Linked DNA regions of Homo sapiens: region 2 is linked to region 1. Evidence: fine-mapped expression QTL. A gene starts in region 1. The other region holds a variant in brackets. All regions are shown on one strand. Distances are between the middles of the regions. Region 1 holds the start of LINC03052 (long intergenic non-protein coding RNA 3052). Region 2 has its middle 4.2 kb from the start of MRPS5.

Region 1 (5,377 bases):
TTTTGCATAGCCATTTTACCTGAAAGGTATAATTATTTCTTCTACAATTAATAAATCTGCATATGTCTAGGCCAGCTATATCAGGTAGAGCTTGTCCTCTAGTACTTACATCTATAAAACAAATAAGACAGTTATAAGGAGGCTCTAAGAAAAACAATTTTTTCTCATTCTGGACTTTGAGGTCTTAATTCTTTAAACTAATTTTCTGTCTCAATAGTGGATATCACCCTGAAACTTAATTTGTCCAAACACCTCACATAATCTGAAATTTTACAAAACATAAAGTTCATAGGATCAATACATTCTTGTGCCTTAAGTCTCCAGGCATTCAAGGATACTATTATGTGGAAACTCAGGCCTTCTACTGCATTATTGAAGGAGCACATTTGAGACTCACAGCACTTGTTGCTGTTAACAGGTCTGGACAATGAGTGATGTCAGTCCAGATAATTCTGAGGAAGGCTTTCTGCCTTGTTATAAGGAGGATAATCACTGGAGACTCTAGACAAGTTCCCAGTCATCATTCCAGCGTTTAGTTGCTGTTTTTGTAATCTCAGCATTTTTGGAGGCCAAGGCAGGTGGATCACTTTAGGTCAAGAGTTCAAGACTGGCCTGTTCAACATGGTAAAACTTTGTCTTTACCTAAAATACAAAAATTAGCGGGGCATGGTGGTGCACACCTGCAATCCCAGCTACTATGGAGGCTGAGGCAGGATAATCACTTGAACCAAGGAGGCAAAGATAGCAGTGAACCGAGATCATGCCACTGCACTCTAGCCTCGGTGACAGACTGAGACTCTGTCTCAATAAATAAATAAATAAATAAAATCACCTCTTGCATGGAGGGTGAATAAGGAGTATAACATGAGGACGTGTGAGGAAAATATGCATTAGAAGGGAAGGAGAACATACTTAACATGCCAGTGGAAGGTGAAATTCTAAATTATCTGAGAATATTTTTGAGAACTTTGTTTAATTCTCAGTGTAGAAAGATGTACCCTTTGAATGACATTAAAAATTCACTAGAAGAGTGAATAGTTAAAATGTCACATAAGTAACAAGAGTCTCAAAACAAAAAGTGTTCTAAAAGTTTAAAGTCCGTATTTGAGATAGAGGAGAGAATAAATAATAGTTCATTAATTAGTCTTTATTATGTGAAAAGACTTTTCTAAAATTCTTCCATAATAATTGAAGATATAAATTACAATAATTAAAATTTACAAAAGAATAAAAGCATTAAAATAAAGTGTGAAAAATTTAAAAAGGGTAAAGATGAAAATTATTTAATTTTTAATCTCAAAAATCCGAAAGTGATTTTATCAATGTCCTAAGAAAATTAAAATGAAAACAAACTTAATAATGTAAAGAAAGGAGGTTTCTGCCGGGCTGGGGGCGGGAGCTACGGCTTCTCTGGGGACGCGGAAGCGAGAAGCAGGGACCTTGGGGCGCGCCCGGTTTTCCGGGACGGTGCCCCGGCCCCCAGCCCACGCCTCCGGCCGCTGGCATGGTGCTGCTGGCTGGGACCCGGCCGCAGGGTGGCTGGGAGCGCTGCATGACCCCGCCACCGCCGTCCCCACTCCTAGGCGCACAGGTCGAGGAGGACCGCGCTGACTACAAAGAGTTCCAGGGCCCCACACCTGCAGCATAGCCTGGGACGACTCTGTACCCTTTCCAGGACGAGGAGGAGCACGGCGTCGAGGGCTTGGAGAGCGTCCCGGAGGAGGGCGTCCAGGAGGCATGGGGCTGCTGCGGACGCTGGTGCGGCGAGGGGTGAGCGTTGAGAAGGCGCAGGAGACTGACCACAATGGCTGGACCAGCCTTAATGTCGCCTGCTACCACGGCTTTGTGGATATACCGTGGTGGCCTTAGCTGAGTAACCCCACACTGACGTCAACTGGCAGGACAGGGAGGGGAACGCAGCCCTAAATACAGCTGCACAGGCAGGAGCTGCCTCTGGCCCCATGGGCACCGTTGCCTTGGACACTGGCTCTCAGCCTTGTGCTTCCTGGTCAGCATCACGTGGGCTGGTTCATTTGAGCTTTAACACAGATCTGGTGGAAACACAGGCTGCCAGGCCCTGCCCCTGGAGTCTTTCTTTGAATAGGCCTGGGGTGGGGCCCAAGAATGAGCAGAAGAACAGGTTTCCTGGTGAGGCTGATGCCGCTGGCCCAGGGTTCTCACGTTGAGGACCGAGAGCTTTGAGGTTTTCATACCTGATGATGTCCAGGAACCCTTCTCAGTAGGCACTGAAGACCATCAGCAGAATCACAGACCCCAGGAGAGATGTCGTCAGACAGACACAGAGGCATCACCGAATTAAAGTGAAAATGAAGAAAGGAGCTGAGCATCTGTTTCATGACTTTCGTGGCTGTTTTACTAAAGAGGCTATCCTGGCCCAGTCAGGGCACGCTATCATCACCAACTACTTGTTGAACTACGTTCAGGGTCTTGATCTTGAAGGAGGGACGCGTTCGGGTTGAAAGCCGCCATGCAGGGTCGAACGGATCGCATCGGAGCCCTGAGCTAGCAGGGGCGGGTGTCCACGCGAGGGCCCCCGCCGTGGGATGTCGCCAGAGGAGTGGCCACTTATACGTCCGCCTCATGCAGAGGCTCCTGGAGCGCCCCTGCCGGGAGCTGTTGGGGAAAAAGTACCAGCTTGAGCTGCCGCCGCTCCCCGAGAGGCCGCAAAAGCCCGAGGGCTCCAAGAACTGCCTGCAGAGGCTCAGGGACTGCGAGCTGTCCGCGCTGACGCCGCGCTCCATGCGGGGCCCAGAGGACCGGGGCGCCCTGGACCACATGGTCAGGATGACCACGAGCCTCTAACAGCCCCGCCGGGGCCCTCGCGTGCCAGACTATGTGCCCCGAGAGCACCTTGTGCTGGGGGAAGAGGCGGCTGGCGGTGCAGGAAATCCTGGCGGCGCAGGAAATTCCGGCGGCGCGGCGAGGGGTGGGGGGAGGCAGGCGCAGGAGGCGGGCGAAGAGGAGGGCGCAGAGTAGCATAAGCCGCTCGGCCTAGCGGCCGCTGGCTCCACAAAGGCCTCCCCAAGAGCCGGCCTCCCACCTGCCCGGCTGCCGGGGTCCTGGGGCTCCGCCGCCCCCGCCCCGCGGACGGCCAGCCTCCTGCCCCTGCAGTGCCTGCAGCAGAGCAGCTTGGGGCCCAGCGTGGTGGTGCCCAGGTCCGCCTCAGCAAGGTGCCCGCGCCCACCTTCCAACCCAAAAGGCCGGCGCGGAAGGGCAGCATAAAGGCAGCGGCCACCTGCGGATACCCAAGTGGCCTTACAAGGTGGCCAAGGAGGAGAAACGGGAGGCGGAGGAGGCCGAGAAGAGGCGCCAGGCCAAGGTGCAGGAGAAGCGCCCGCCGCCCTGGAAGAAGAGGACGTGAGAGTCCGCGGGTGCTTGGCACGGGGTTTGAGGGCTGGGTGAGGCCGCGGGGCTGGGCACCATGGCAGCTCTCGGGACCACCGGGCAGCGCGCGTTTCCACGCTGTCTCTCTAGGATGCTCCCAGAAAGGGGCTGGGGGAGCCACATCGATTCGCTTCACACCAGCCACCCTAGCAATCAGTACACCTAGGGGGCATGTTCCCTAAAAGGCTCCCTTTAGAGAACCTCAATTAAGATTTTTTTAAAGATTAATTTATTAGGCCAGGCGCGGTGGCTCACGCCTGTAATCCCAGCACTTTGGGAGGCCGAGGCGGGCGGATCACCTGAGGTTAGGAGTTTGAGACTAGCCTGACCAACATGGAGAAACCCCATCTCTACTAAAAATACAAAATTAGCCGGGCGTGGTGGCACATGCCTGTAATCCCAACTACTCGGGAGGCTGAGGCAGGAGAATCGCTTGAACCCTGGAGGCAGAGGTGGCAGGGAGCCAAGATGGCGCCATTGCACTTCAGCCTAGGCAACAAGAGCCAAACTCCGTCTCAATTAAAAAAAAATCAATTTATTAAAGGATATTTTCTGTGTAATTTTGTATTTTTAATTGTTGTCCAATTTGCCAAGTTTTACAAGTGATAGGGTCCCTTGTATCCAAGGAAGTTTTTATACACTTACCTGAAGACCTTTTATTTAAAACACTGTTTCCAGCAATAAATATTTATGATATCTGTAGGACTTTACACAGAAATCATGGGATTCTCTCCTTTTTGGGCTGTTTGCTTTGGTCTTCTCATCATGGGTGGATGTTTTTATTAATTAGATTAAGTGATGCCGGATATTTCTATTTGATGGAGGGATTGACTGGTTCAGCCACATGATCAAGTGAGACAGAGAGATCAGATTTTATTGTATCTTTTTAAAAAGTATTATCCAATACAGTCATATATTGAGGAAAAACATTTATCGTCAAATTATAAAACAATGCAGAGATAGGCATGTCTGTATTGCTAGAATTAAACTCATTTTAAGCAAGGAGTTTTAGATAAACTGTATACAAAAATCTTTAACATATTAAAATAGACATGAGAAAAATGTGTCATTTGATAAAATGGGGGAAATGTAATAAATGATTACCAGAAATATAAAATTAAGCCGTATATGCTCTTAAGTAAATCGAATCTAGGCATCCTTAAAATGTAAAAAAGGATGCAACAAGAGTAAGGAGCCCAGAATGATGTAAATTACAGGAATGGGGTGTAATGTAACCTCTAGAGGAGGTGATGTTTAGAAGAAGCAAAGAGAATGCAATGAGAAGCAAACTTGTTTTAGGCAAATTCTCCTGGAGTGGACCAGGCAGCCCCCTCTTCCAGACTCAGTTCCAGAGATTCCCTTATGTGGGTATTTGTTTTATTATTCCTTTGAGGACTGCATTTGGTGTTTAGTTCATCCTCATGTGGACCCTATGGAATTTCCAAGATGCGGGGCCTTAGCACTGTGGCACCTTCCTGCCACACGTACATAATTCACAGCATTACCAAGTCACCACAAGCCCCACGCTCACCTCTGTCAGCCCAGGACCCAGCCAGGCAGTGCCACGTGGTCTCCCAGGCTCGCTTCTCCAAGCCGAACTGCGAAAGTTATTGAGGCACTGGCCCAGGGAACTGAGCCTTGGGCCTGTCCTAAAGCTCCATAGGTGACTGCACTGCAGCCCACATGGAGAGCTGCAGCTCTAACACAGGGATTTTGAGAGGCCTCAGTGCCATTTAAGTGGCACTTCCAGGACACCCATCCTGAGCTCCCACAAAGGGCGCCACCTTCCCAAGAACGTCTAATTGTCATTGGAACAGCCAGTGTCAGGCAGCTTCTGCTCAGGCTGATGTGGCGTCTGACCCTTGGTGGGTTGCCAGACATTCCTTCCTGTTTCTGCCATGGGAAGTTGGCACTGGGAATGGTATGGAGCCCCCACTTCTACCCTGAGCCTTGGGTGTCTGCTGCTTCCAGG
Region 2 (5,377 bases), 400 kb before region 1:
AATTATGTTCCTCTCAAGTACTGACCATCCAGCCAAGTCATTAGCCACTGCTCATGAAAAAGTATAGATCTATACTTCTAACCAGGCAAAATGAACAACCAGGCACATTACTCTTATCTTCTTCCCACTGGGAGGATTTCCCTTCACCGCCGTCCTTCAGAAGCATCCCAGAGTGGGATTGCAGTACTGCAGCTGTCCACTTTCAGGTGATACCAACAGATCATGCAGAACCATGAGTAAACCAAGCCCAAGAGTTTTCTTCTTCAGGCAACTGGTCACAGGTAATTCCTCATGAAGCTGTGGGTAGGGGTTGAGAGAGAGAAGATCATGTAGCTTGCATGTTCAGGTCCTGCTCCAGTTCAGTTTCATATGTACCACTTCCATTCGATGATGGAGTGTTGCTGTGCACACACAACTTTATGGCTTGGTGATCATACAACAGCCAGTTCATGATGAGCAGCTTAAACTGCATGGTAAGTTGCTGGTCAATGGTCAAGCCTCCAGACTCTGTTAAGGCCCAAAGCAAGTTTTGATTACTTAGTCGTTTGTTTCTAACTTTTAAATTTGAAATAATTACAGATTCAAAGATACAGATAGGAAGTTGCAAAAATAGTACAGAGAGGTCCCATGTATCCTTTACTCAGTTTCCCCAAATGGTACATCTTACATAACTATAGTACAACATCAAAACCAGGAAGCTGACATCGGTACAATCCATAGATTTTATGAGTTTTACATACACTCATTTGTGTATGTGTGTGTAGTTCTATGCAGTTGTGTCACATGTAGATTTCTGTATCCAGCACCACAATCGAGATACAGAACTGTTCTATCTCCAAGATCACCTGTGCATCTCCCTTCGAGTCAAACCCACCCCCTCTTTTATCCTCTCCTCCACCATCTTTAACCTTTGGCAACCACTAATCTGTTTCTCATCTCTATAATTTTATCATTTTAAGAACATTATATAAATGGAATCAGATAATACATGATCTCATGACTGGCTTTTTTTCACTCAGCATAATACCCTTGACGTCTATCCAAGTAGTTCCATGTACCAATAGTTTCTTCCTTTACATTGCTGAGTAGTATTCCATGGCACTAACATTTGTTTAACCATTCACCCATTGTAGGACATTTAGTTTGTCTCATATTATTATTTTTATTTTTATTTTCCTTTTCCTTTTCTTTTTTTCCTTAAGACAGAGTCTCGCTCTGTCACCCAGGCTGGAGTGCAGTGGCATAGTCTCAGCTCACTGCAACCTCCGTCTCCTGGGTTCAGGCGATTCTCGTGCCTCAGTCTCCTGATTAGCTGGGATTACAGGCGTGTCCCATTACACTCAGCTAATTTTTTGTATTTTTAGTAGAGACGGGGTTCCACCATGTTGGCCAGGCTGGTCTCAAACTCCTGGCCTTTAAGCAATCCACCCACCTCAGCCTCCCAAAATGCTGGGATTACAGGCGTGAGCCACTGCACCCAGGCTGTCTTCAGTTATTAACTATTTCAAACAAAGCTGCCATCAACATTCATGTATGTGATTTTTTGATATTTAGAAATTTTATTTTATTTTTATTTTTTTGAGACAGAGTCTCACTCTGTCGCCCAGGCTGGAGTGCAATAGCGCGATCTCGGCTCACTGCAAACTCCCCCTCCCAGGTTCAAGCGATTCTCCTGCCTCACCCTCCTGAGTAGCTAGGTAGAGGCCTGTGCCACCATGCCCAGCTAATTTTTGTATTTTTGTAGAGACAGCATTTCACCATGTTGCCCAGGCTGGTCTCAAACTCCTGACCTCAAGCGATCCGCCCACCTCAGACTCCCAAAGTGCTGGGATTACAGGCATGAGCCACTGTGCCCAGCCAGAAATTTTAAAATTGTGGTAAAATACACATAACATAAAAATTGCCATCCTTTTTTTTTTTTTTTTTTGAGACGGAGTCTCGCGTCGCGTCTCGCTCTGTCGCCCAGGCTGGAGTATAGTGGCATGATCTCAGCTCACTGCAACCTCCGCCTCCTGGGTTCAAGCGATTCTCCTGCCTCAGCCTCCTGAGTAGCTGGGACTACAGGCGCCCACCACCA[T/C]GCCCAGCTAATTTTTGTATTTTTAGTAGAGACAGGTTTCACCATGTTAGCCAGGATGGTCTCGATCTCTTGACCTTGTGATTCACCCACCTTGGCCTCCCAAAGTGCTGGGATTATAGGCGTGAGCCACCACACCTGGACCATCTTAATCATTTTTAAGTGTACAATTCAGTGGCATTAAGTACATTCACGTTGTTGTGCTACCATCACCACCATCTATCCACAGAAGTCTTTTATCTTTCAAAACTGAAACTGCAGCCATTAAACAATAACTCCCCATTCCCCTCTCCCTTCATGTAAGTGCAGTTATATAGTATTGTCCTTTTGTGACTGGCTTATTTCACTTAGCATGTTGTTCTCAAGGTTCATCCAGGTATAGCGTGTGCCAGAATGTCCTTACTTTTAATATTATGAATAATATTCCATTGTATGAATAGATCATATTTTATTATCCATTCATCTGTCAATGGACACTTGGGTTGCTTTCACCTTTTGGCTATTGTGAATAATGCTGCTGTGAACATGAGTGTGCAGATAATCTCTTCAAATCTCTGCTTTCAATTATTTTGAAATATATCCATCATGTACATGATTTTGTGTGGCTATAAGTTTTAATTTGGGGGGATAAATGTCAAGCTGTGAGATTATTAGATTGTGTGGTAAGTATATGTTTAGTTTTTAAAGAAACTGCCAGCCGGGCATGGTGGCTCACGCCTGTAATCCCAGCACTTTGGGAGGCCAAGGTGGGTGGATCATCTGAGGTCAGGAGTTAGAAACCAGCCTGGCTAACATGGTGAAACCCCATCTCTACTAAAAATACAAAAATTAGCCAGGTGTAGTGGCGCACACTTGTAATCCCAGCTACTCAGGAGGCTGAGGCAGGAGAATCACCTGAACCCAGGAGGTAGAGGTTTCAGTGAGCCGAGATTGAGCCATTGCACTCCAGCCTGGGCAACAAGAGTGAAACTCCATCTCAAAAAAAAAAAAAAAAAAAAAAAAGAAAGAAAGAAAGAAAGGAAGAAAAAAAGAAAGAAACTGCCAAACTACTTTCCAAAGTGGCCATTCCATTTTATATTCCTGCCAGCAATATGTGAAAGATCTAGTTTCTCTGTATCCTCACTAACATTCAGTGTTATCCCCATTTTTTTTAGCTGCTCTCATAGGTATGGTGACATATCATCATGGTTTTAATTTACATTTCCCTAATAGCTAATGATGTTGAATTTCTTTTCATGTGCTTCTAGAATTGCCATCTGTATACCCTCTTGAGTAAAATGTCTTTTGCTCATTTTCTAGTTGGATTGTTTGGTTTCTTTCACTGCTGTGTTTTGAGAATTCTTTGTATATTCTACATGTGAGCCCATTTTCTTTTTTTTTCTTTTCTTTTTTCTTGGAAACAGGATCTTGCTGTATCGCCCAGGCTGAGTGTACTGGCACTATCATAACTCAATGCAGCCTCACACTCCTGGCCTCAAGCAATCCTCCTGCCTTGGCCTCCCATAGCTACAGGAATAACCACGGGATGGGTTCTGGGACCTATTGCGCCCACCGTGAGACAGACCTGACCTAAAACTCCACCAATCACCTGATCTCTTTATGCCTCTGCTCTGACAGGTCACTGTGACATTTCGGGTCTCCAGGAATTGGTGTCAGCTCAGAGGCAGTGTTGAGTAATCCTTAAAACATCTGGATATTTCTCTGTCCTTGATGCATAGTCACCCTGGTAAATGGCTACAAGTACCTTTGGGGAAGGCTGAAAGGAAGATTAGCTGTACGTTTTTGGTAGTGTACCAATGCCTTTCCTGAGAGGGGACCCAGCCTGCCCTTCACTCGAGGGACTCTGGATCTGTGAATTCACTCAAGTCTGGGAATTGATTGAGGAGACATGACTCCCTCTTTTGGTGATTCAAGTCAGACTTCTGTTCACTAGGCCTAGATCTTTTCTGCCTATACAAATCCAGTAAGACTTCAGTAGGTTCTCCATCTCTTTTATTTCCAGAAACACCAAAGGTCAACACCAAAGGTCCTAGTGAGCCTGGCCATTCTGATGATTGTGTTTGTTCTACTGTCTATATGGTAACCATACCCAACTTCTGTTCAGTGATTAAGTGCCACCACATAGTGCCTGTCACCTCACTATCTTCATTGTGTTTAGTGTTTTTTGGTTGTTTTGTTTTTGTTTTTGTTTTTTTGTTTTTGTTTTTGTTTTTTTGTTTTTTGTGTTTTGTGTTGTTTTTTGAGACAGAGATTTGCTCTTATTGCCCAGGCTGTAGTGCAGTGGCATGATCGCAGCTCACTGCAGCCTCCGCCTTAGTGGTTCTCCTGCCTTAGCCTCACAAGTAGCTGGGATTACAGGTGCCTGCCACCACGCCCGGCTAATTTTTATATTTTTAGTAGAGACAGGATTTTAGCCTGTTGGCCAGGCTGGCCTTGAACTCCTGAACTCAGGTAAGCCACCTGCCTCGGCCTCCCAAAGTGCTGGGATCACAGGCGTGAGACACCGCACCCGGCCTAGTGTTTTAGTTTGATGGTAGCTGTTCCCTCTATATTTTTGACCTAAAGAGCCATGGCCACATGCAGTGGCTCACACCTGTAATCCCAACACTTTGGGAAGCTGAAGTGGAAGGATCACTTGAGTCTGGGAGTTCAAGACCAGCCCTGGACAACACAGTGAGACCCCACCTCTACAAAAAGTTTTTAAAATAAAAAATTAGGGCTGGGCGTGATGGCTCACGCCTGTAATCCCAGCACTTGGGGAGGCCGAGATGGGCGGATTGCCTGAGGTCAGCAGTTCAAGACCAGCCTGGCCAACACAGTGAAACCTCATCTCTACTAAAAATATAAAAAGCCAGGCATGGTGGCAGGTGCCTGTAATCCCAGCTACTCAGGAGGCTGAGGCAGGAGAATCACTTGAACCTGGGAGGTGAAGGTTGCAGTGAGCTGAGATCCCACCGTTGCACTCCAGCCTGGGCGACACGAGCAAGGCTTCGTCTCAAAAAAAAAAAAAAAAAACAGCTGGGCATGGTGGTGTGTCCCTGTAATCCCAGCTACTTGAGAGCTGAGGCAGGAGAATTGCTTGAACCCAGGAGGCGGAGGTTGCAGTGAGCCAAGATCGAACCACTGCACTCCAGCCTGGGCGACAGAGTGAGACTCCGTCTCAAGAAAAAGAAGAAAGAAGAAGGAAGAGGATGAGGAGGAGGAGGAGGGAGAAGAAGAAAGAAAAAGGAGGAGGAGGGAGAAGAAGAAAGAAAAAGGAGGAGGAGGAATAAGGAAGAAGAAGTAAGAAGGAGGAAGAGGAGG

What was found.
Region 2: its variant is fine-mapped to the expression of LINC03052 in whole blood (TOPMed, PIP above 0.99).

The regions. Positions count from the first base shown.
Region 1 is chr2:95,523,842-95,529,218 of GRCh38, forward strand. LINC03052 (long intergenic non-protein coding RNA 3052) reads right to left here and starts at 2,913. Exons shown (of 1, transcript NR_182300.1): 1 at 1,032-2,913. It also overlaps the pseudogene ANKRD33BP1. RefSeq lists a silencer at 2,893-3,182 and an enhancer at 3,323-3,452.
Region 2 is chr2:95,123,320-95,128,696 of GRCh38, forward strand. It overlaps a transcript of ZNF514 not described here. Among named protein-coding and RNA genes, the nearest start is that of MRPS5, 4.2 kb to the left of the region's middle. The variant T/C (reference allele first, on the strand shown) is at 2,078.